Linked DNA regions of Homo sapiens. The protein of the gene in region 1 interacts with the protein of each later gene in a pairwise test. Each region holds a gene or a part of one and is shown in the gene's direction. Other genes may lie near its edges. The genes, in order: PEX5L and PEX7.

Evidence for each region.
Region 2: the proteins of PEX5L (region 1) and PEX7 interact in a two-hybrid assay, tested with the Homo sapiens proteins (one study listed by BioGRID).

What each region holds. Positions count from the first base shown.
Region 1 is NC_000003.12:179,806,069-179,809,987, reverse strand, and holds part of PEX5L (PEX5-related protein), read left to right. Parts: intron 1-319; coding exon 320-517; intron 518-1,550; coding exon 1,551-1,716; intron 1,717-2,156; coding exon 2,157-2,314; intron 2,315-3,919. UniProt on the Homo sapiens protein: Accessory subunit of hyperpolarization-activated cyclic nucleotide-gated (HCN) channels, regulating their cell-surface expression and cyclic nucleotide dependence.
Region 2 is NC_000006.12:136,820,525-136,824,443, forward strand, and holds the start of PEX7 (peroxisomal biogenesis factor 7), read left to right. Parts: upstream 1-2,067; 5' UTR 2,068-2,141; coding exon 2,142-2,271; intron 2,272-2,373; exon of another isoform or gene 2,374-2,839; coding exon of another isoform or gene 2,840-2,855; intron 2,856-3,919. UniProt on the Homo sapiens protein: Receptor required for the peroxisomal import of proteins containing a C-terminal PTS2-type peroxisomal targeting signal. Specifically binds to cargo proteins containing a PTS2 peroxisomal targeting signal in the cytosol.

The sequences.
Region 1 (3,919 bases):
TGATATCCCCTATTTCTCATGAGATCTCATTAGATTAAGCACTAATAAATCATGTGCAGGGATAAGCCACATAGTTTTAAAGCTACTTATTAAAATTACCAAACCTAGCAATCATTAGGGTAAGTTTTAACTTTCTTAAAAATATGCTGAGGTCTCCATTTTTATGTGGATAAATATGGTGCTTTCCAGGAACTTGACATAAGCAAGCTTACCAATGCTTTTGCAGTATTTAGTTAATAAAGACCCCCCACATTTTCTGAAGAACTGTTAGATTGTGGCTCAAAAAAAAATCTGAAATTGGCTTCTTTTTTTTTTTCAGGTGCTTAGAATTACAGCCCAACAACTTAAAAGCTTTGATGGCCTTGGCTGTGAGTTATACTAACACTGGCCATCAGCAGGATGCCTGTGACGCTCTGAAGAATTGGATTAAGCAAAATCCAAAGTACAAATACCTTGTGAAAAGCAAGAAGGGATCTCCAGGCCTCACCCGGCGGATGTCTAAGTCCCCAGTTGATAGGTATCCTTCTCGTTATATTACAGCTGGCAGTAAACACCCATATATACAATGAATCACCTAAAGGGCAACTAATGAGCCTCACACCCTAGACACCACCCACTCCAGAATGGTTTGCAGGACAGTATTCTGCTGGAGGAGCATCACTCGTTAGAAAGATTAATGCTTAGACCAGGGCCAACCTTCGGGCACATGATCTACATTGTGGGCACTCACAGACATTTATCTGAGTGCCACATTTTAAAGTCAAATGCTTTGGACACAGAATTCACCCAAGGTGAAGTATAATAAATACCAATGCTCCAAGTTTTATCCAGCCTGAGAATTAGGAATGGGGAAAATGAAAGTCTCGTCTTCTAGAAATTTTGTTTTCTTTTTTTTTTTTTTTTTTTTTTTTTTTGAGGCGGAATCTCACTCTGTCGCCCAGGCTGGAGTGCAGTGGCACAATCTCGGCTCACTGCAAGCTCCGCCTCCCGGGTTCACGCCATTCTCCTGCCTCAGCCTCCCGAGCAGCTGGGACTACAAGGGCCCGCCAACACGCCCGGCTAATTTTTTGTATTTTTAGTAGAGACGGGGTTTCACCTTAGCCAGGATGGTCTTGATTCCCTGACCTCGTGATCCGCCCGCCTCGGCCTCCCAAAGTGCTGGGATTACAGGCGTGAGCCACCACGCCCGGCCTAGAAATTTTGTTTTCTATCAGCAATAAATCCTTATGTTAAATCCTTATTCACTGAGGCCTTGGGAAACTTAGCTGTGGGGTTTTCCACATTGGCACTCATAGAGTCAACAGAACTCGCCTCGTGAAGACCTTACTTAGCACAGTCTGTATCCGTGTACAACAAAATAGTTCATGAAATTCAACCATATTTTAAAACATTCAGCATTAATAGTCCTCTCATTGAGTTAAGGTATTTTAAGCAAAATTTTCCAGTCTGTAACGAAGAGACTTCTTGAAATACAGTCAAGGGATTTAACAGTAAATCATTTATGTTCTGACTATTTGGATTACAAATCTAATTTTTTTTTTCTCTTGTAGCTCTGTTCTGGAAGGGGTGAAGGAATTATATCTGGAAGCTGCCCACCAAAATGGAGATATGATCGACCCAGACCTGCAGACAGGTCTAGGGGTTCTGTTCCACCTGAGTGGAGAATTTAATAGAGCAATAGATGCATTTAACGCTGCCTTAACTGTTCGGCCAGAGGTAAGACAGCACAGCACAGCAAGAAACCACAGCGTTCTCTGTAACAAATAAGTTTTCACAGGCTACACCGTCTACATTTCTTCTGCACTTTATTTCCCTGACTCCAATGGTTTAAAGTGATGGGTACTAATAATAATGTGCTACTGTGGCTGTTAATATTGAAATACCTGAAATACAAACACTAATATTGAAATACCTAAAATAGAAACACTAATTGATGTTGTTGATGACAACATCAAATGGTAGCTGTTCATTGACGAGTGAAAGTCATTTGACAAAACTGTCCGTGAAGATTTTTTAGTAATTCACCTGGCCATGGTCTCCATCCATGAGCACTGCATAAATTTTTAGCCATCTTCCTTTCTCTGCAGAGAAATACAGGAATGCTCTGTCATTGTGCCTTGTACTGGGTTGTTAGAAAGTTCTGATTTTGTCATCAGGACTATTCACTATGGAACCGCCTCGGGGCGACCTTGGCGAACGGAGACCGCAGCGAGGAAGCCGTGGAGGCCTATACGCGAGCACTGGAGATTCAGCCAGGATTCATCCGGTCCAGATACAACCTAGGAATAAGCTGCATCAACCTGGGCGCCTACAGGTGAAGTACAGCAACAGGCCAAGGATGAAGGCCATGCCCAGGACTGAGGTCGAATAATCTGAAAGGTTGTTTCCAAGTAAAAATGCCTGCCTTGGTAGGAGTATTCCTCCTCCTGCCGTTAAGGGTGAATGTGGAGCCTTCAGATCCCAAGGCCTGTTTGAGCAGGAACCCTGTGCTTCTCTGGTTCTCAATCTTTAGAGAGCAGCAGTTGGCTCCGCATCTTGGGAAATGCAGATTCCCAATTCCTGGCCCCTGAGATTTTGATTCAGTTGGCCTGGATTAGGACAAGTTATCAGCATTTTCAACACCCCCAAGGGCAACTCTTCAAGAAATAGTACCCGTCAATCTTTCATTTTCCACTTAAGGAAAAAAGAGCCTTGGGGGTGTGGGCAAGGGGACCTGGCAAAATGACTTTCAGAAAGTCCCAGAATCAGTGTTTAGCAAAGCAAAACTAAGAGTCCAGGTTTTCTAAACCTAATATACCAATCAAGTTAGTTGGGAGAAAAGAAAAAACACAACTGGGCTTATAGTTTAAAATGCCTTTCTCATTCTCGTCCTTCGTCGTTAAGGTCTGCGTCCTCTCTTTCTTTTTCCCATTACCAGGGCCTAGAAATGACCTTTATTTCTTTCAGATAATGAAAGTATGGGTAATCTTTTTTCTTCTTTCTTTTCCCATTTTTTCTATTTTCTAAATAAACCGGTATTACTTTCATAATTTGGAAAAAGAACTAAATGTTAGTTTTGAACCCCACAAAAGATGTAAACCCTTTCTCATTCTCTGAAAGAGCCAGGCTTTAATAATCAGACAAGCCTGTGTTAAAATCACAGCTCTGCCATGTACCGGTTTTGTGACTCTGGTCTATAATTTTTAGCCTCAATTTCTTCACTTGTTAAAAAAAGAGAGAGAAAGAGGTAATGATTATTTTTCAGGATTTTGTACAGGTTAAATGTAATTGCCTAGCACAGAGCAGATGCTCAATGCCTAGCAGGCATTTATTATGATGATTATTATTTTTGCCATCATCATCCTTATTACTATTATTTATTTAGTAAGTCATCAGAGAACTGTATAACTAGATTTCACTCTTTTGACATCTAAAGAATGACTGCTTCTGAACTGCATTGGTGCATTTTGCCACTGGCAAACATTGAGATCCTAGAAAATAGTTGTTGCACTGTACGAAAAAACTCTTACAAAGAGCATTAGTCACTAGATTAACTGTGTCAAGAGAATTTTCTCAGATCAAAACCAGGAAGAGCTGAATGACTCCTTACCAAGCGGCTTGCTTTATTTTATGGACACTGTGAAATGTGCCACTGCAGAGGCCCTGTTTACATCAGCTGTGCAAAAGCCCAGAGCTGACTCTGTGCCACCCCCCTACACATCAGCTGTCCAAGCCCTGCGGATGTCTATTTTGTATCCTAACTTCATTCCTGGCTTCATCTGATTTTCCCGGCCAGATTTCCTATTTACGTCTTTCATTCACTTTTTTTCTAGATATGTTGTGTATATGTATTTTATGAGACACCTTAGATTCCTTTTTTTTTAGAACAAGGGAGATGTAAAACAAAATACATATATATATATAAAACATATAATGTAAT
Region 2 (3,919 bases), on another chromosome or scaffold:
CATTACTTCGAGATGCTCAAAATCTAGTGTAAGAGTATGGTTTATTTTTTATATGTTTAGTTGTTTATATTTTAGAAAGCTTCACAGGTGGGATGAAATATTTTACAATGCTATAATCATGTATGGTTAGGTAAGGAGCAGGTAATAGCTCAGTTTGTGTGTGTGTGTGTATGTCCAAGGTCACTGTAAATAGTTTACCCCAGCTGGAACCAGCCTTTCTCCCTCCCAGAGATACCACACTATTTTTAGCTTAGATTGGATAACTCTTTATATACAACTCTTTGCCAAGGTCCCAGCTGCTTCATGTTTGCTTACTTTGATATTTTATTAACGCCTATTTAGCATTTCAATAAACTCCAGAATGTTTCCAGGTTACTTTTTGTAGTATTACGAAAAACACACTGATCATTTAGGCACTGTATTAGGCTGCATTCACTCAACATTTCCTGAATGCTTAAATACCAGGTCCTTGGGATACAACAGCGAACATAACAAGCAAAAATTTCTGCCCTCATGCAGCATACATTCCAGTGACTACATATGATAAAAATCCAAAATAATAGAGGCCACACTGGTCTGGATCCTCAAGTGATCCGCCTGCCTCGGCCTCCTAGTGTGCTGGGATTACAGGTGTGAACCACCGCGCCCGGCCTGCAAAAGTCTTTTAACTGGCCTCCCCATCTCCAAACTCTATCCTCCATATTAGTGTTGCAGGACTTTTTAAAATAAAACCTTGGTCATTTAATTTCTCACATTAGAAAACTTCCACTGTTTTTCACTGTTTACAGTAGAAATCCAATTCTCTTAGTATGGTATATAAGACTCTTCATGATCTAGCCCCAGTAAAACACTCTACAGTCTCCCCACCCAATATTTTTTTCACCGTATCCCTTCCATCTGGCCAGGCTGAGTCCTGGCAGCCACGACCCCCTATGGATCATGCTGGTTTAAATCTCCTGGGTTGCTCATGTTATTCCTGCTCCTACAAAGATCTCCATCTTCTTGTCTACCTAAAGAAAACCTACTCATCTGTGTGCAATCACCATAAAGACTTATCTCTCTTCTGCAGCCTTTCCTGCAATTTCCATACCTCTGGCACGGACAATCACCTTTTAAAAATACCCCATATAAATTTATCATAGCCTCTACAGTATTTTGATTACACTTAACTAATTACATGACTTCTCTTTTAGTCTTCTTCTCTAATCTCTTGAGGCCATGGACCATATCCCATTATTTTGAATCCCAAATGCCTAGTACTGTTCTTGGTATATGGTTAAGATGATCATACGACTTGGTTTGTGCCTGTTGACCTGGCTTAATAATTACACCCTCTTTACTCTCAAAAGTATCTTGGTTTGGCAGATAAATTATATTTGGTCATTCTCCACATAGTATATGCCTGGCAATAAATGAATGAATGAGCACCAGCATCTGAGCACTTATTACCATACAATATATACATGTATAGTAATACTTTTTAAAAAAGTTGTATATGATGATGTGCTGCTTTTTTGCTTAGCTTCATTAGAACTGGCCAGCTCCTTTTTCTCACTTGCCAAGCATGGGGAGTTGGTTTGGAGTTGGTGTTTCATCTTTTCCAGTTACAGTGTGAAAGTAGCCCACCAGCCCACGCTCTTATTCCTAAAGACCGCAGTGACTCCACGGACTTAAGTTCTCATTGCTTCCAGTTTCCTTGGGCAACGCAGCACGCAATTTTGGACGCGCTGCGTGGTTTCAGAGTCGGCTGTAACTTTTCTCACTTTATAATCATCAGGAAAAGTTCCTGATGCCAGTCTTCCAAACGCTCAATGAAATAAAAACCAGATAGCACCGCAGAGGAGGCTGAGATGCAACGACAAAAGCTGTCGTAATTATTAATAATACCTAACCCTGGATCACTCCCCTGATAGATCTGTATCTTTGCAGCAGGCGCAATTCAGTTTGGATTCACCCAAAACAAAAATGGTCTCCGTCGGAGTCAACGCCCTTTCCTGTGCGGACCAATCAGAATCTCAAACACAGGGCACGGGGCCCACACTTCCGTCCGGTCTGCCTGGTCTCTCTAACCGCGCCAGTGTGCCTCCGACTCGGAACGGCTTCCGCGGCCGGGGCAGCGAGGGCCGGGGGCGGCGGGCGGGATGAGTGCGGTGTGCGGTGGAGCGGCGCGGATGCTGCGGACGCCGGGACGCCACGGCTACGCCGCCGAGTTCTCCCCGTACCTGCCGGGCCGCCTGGCCTGCGCCACCGCGCAGCACTACGGCATCGCGGGTGAGGCGGCGCCGCGCAGCTGGGGCCGGGGGGCGGAGGCGGAGGCGGGGGCCAGCCGGGCTCCAGTTCCTCGCGCTCGAGGGAAAGCCCCTCTGAGCGTAGACGGTTCCGCGGGTCCACGCCAGGGGGCAGAAGAGGCGCTGGTCGGCGCTTCTCCTTTCTTTGCCGAGTGCGAGGAGTTGGTCTGAAGCAGGAGTCGATCTTCCAGTTGTGTGCAAGTGCATATACGTGTAGCCTAGTAGCCCGTGTCCTTGTTCCTTGAGACCGCGCTGCCTCCGCCACGTGTCACACGCCCAGGCACACGTCCCCGTAGGGAGAGCCGGGGGAGCCTGCGCGGTCCCTTGGATCGGTCCGCTCGGCACAGCAGTACGGGGAAGACGGTCTGAGCCAGAACCGACCCAGGGCTCGCGAGTTGGCCCACAATTCCCAGTCTGCATTCGAGCACTGAGCTGCGACCTGCGGGCTGGCCTTCCTAAGGACGATGCTCCTGAATGGACGCCTGGAGTCCCACGGGTGACACCATGAAATATATCAAGTTCAGTTCTTACCTGTAGTTGTCTAACGAGGAATGCACACATTCGCAAGTAGGTGTTACAGACTCCAGTTAATTGTCTCCCGTCGCGCGCATTGGCTCAGCCTGTGGTTAAAGCTGCTCAGGAGGCTGAGGCGGGAGGATCGCTTGAGCCCGGGATGTTGAGGCTACAATGAGCTGAGATCACATCACTCTGCCCCAGCCCAGTGAGCTGAGATCACATCACTCCACTCCAGCCTGGGTGACAGACTGAGACCCCGTCTTAAAAAGAAAAAAGGCCAAGCGCCGTGCGGTGGCTCACGTCTGTAATCCCAGCACTTTGGGAGGCCGAGGTGGGCGGATCACTTGAGTTCGGGAGTTCCAGACCAGCCTGACCAACATGGAGAAACCCCATCTCTACTGAAAATACAAAATTAGCCGGGCGTGGTGGCGCATGCCTGTAATCCCAGCTACTCGGGAGGCTGAGGTAAGAGAATAGTTTGAACCCAGGAGGCAGAGGTTGCGGTGAGCCGAGATCGTGCCATTGCACTCCAGCCTGGGCAAGAAGAGCAAAACTCCGTCTCAAAAAAAAGAGTCCATCTAGTCCGTGGACTAGATGAAAAGGCGTAGGTTCATTCTCGCTTTTGCCTTAATTCATGTCCTAGCTATTATACGCACTGAAGCGAGATGCAAAAACTCATTTCATAATGTCAGTGGTCTATTGTATTTTTTTGTTTTGTCCTACAGCAGAAAAAAATGTTACTTCTAAAACTCAGAGAAATACTTGATTTATTTTCATTATTAGCTCTTAGTGCTTGCACATTCAGATTTACATGGCCCACCAGTTAGACTGAAGACTCATGAGTCTATAATGGTAGTAGTTTTCTTTTTTTCTTTTTTCTTTTTCTCTTTAGAGACAGGGTCTCACCCTGTTGCCTAGGTTGAGTAGAGTGGTGCAATCACAGCTCACCGTAGCCTCCACCTCCTGGGCTCATATGATCCTCCTGTCTCAACCTCACCAGTAGCTGGGACCACAGGCATGTACCATCACACCTGGCTAATTTTTGATTTTTTATTTTTGTAGAGACAGGGTATCACTATGTTGCCCAGGCTGGTCCGGAACTGGGTGCAAGCGAT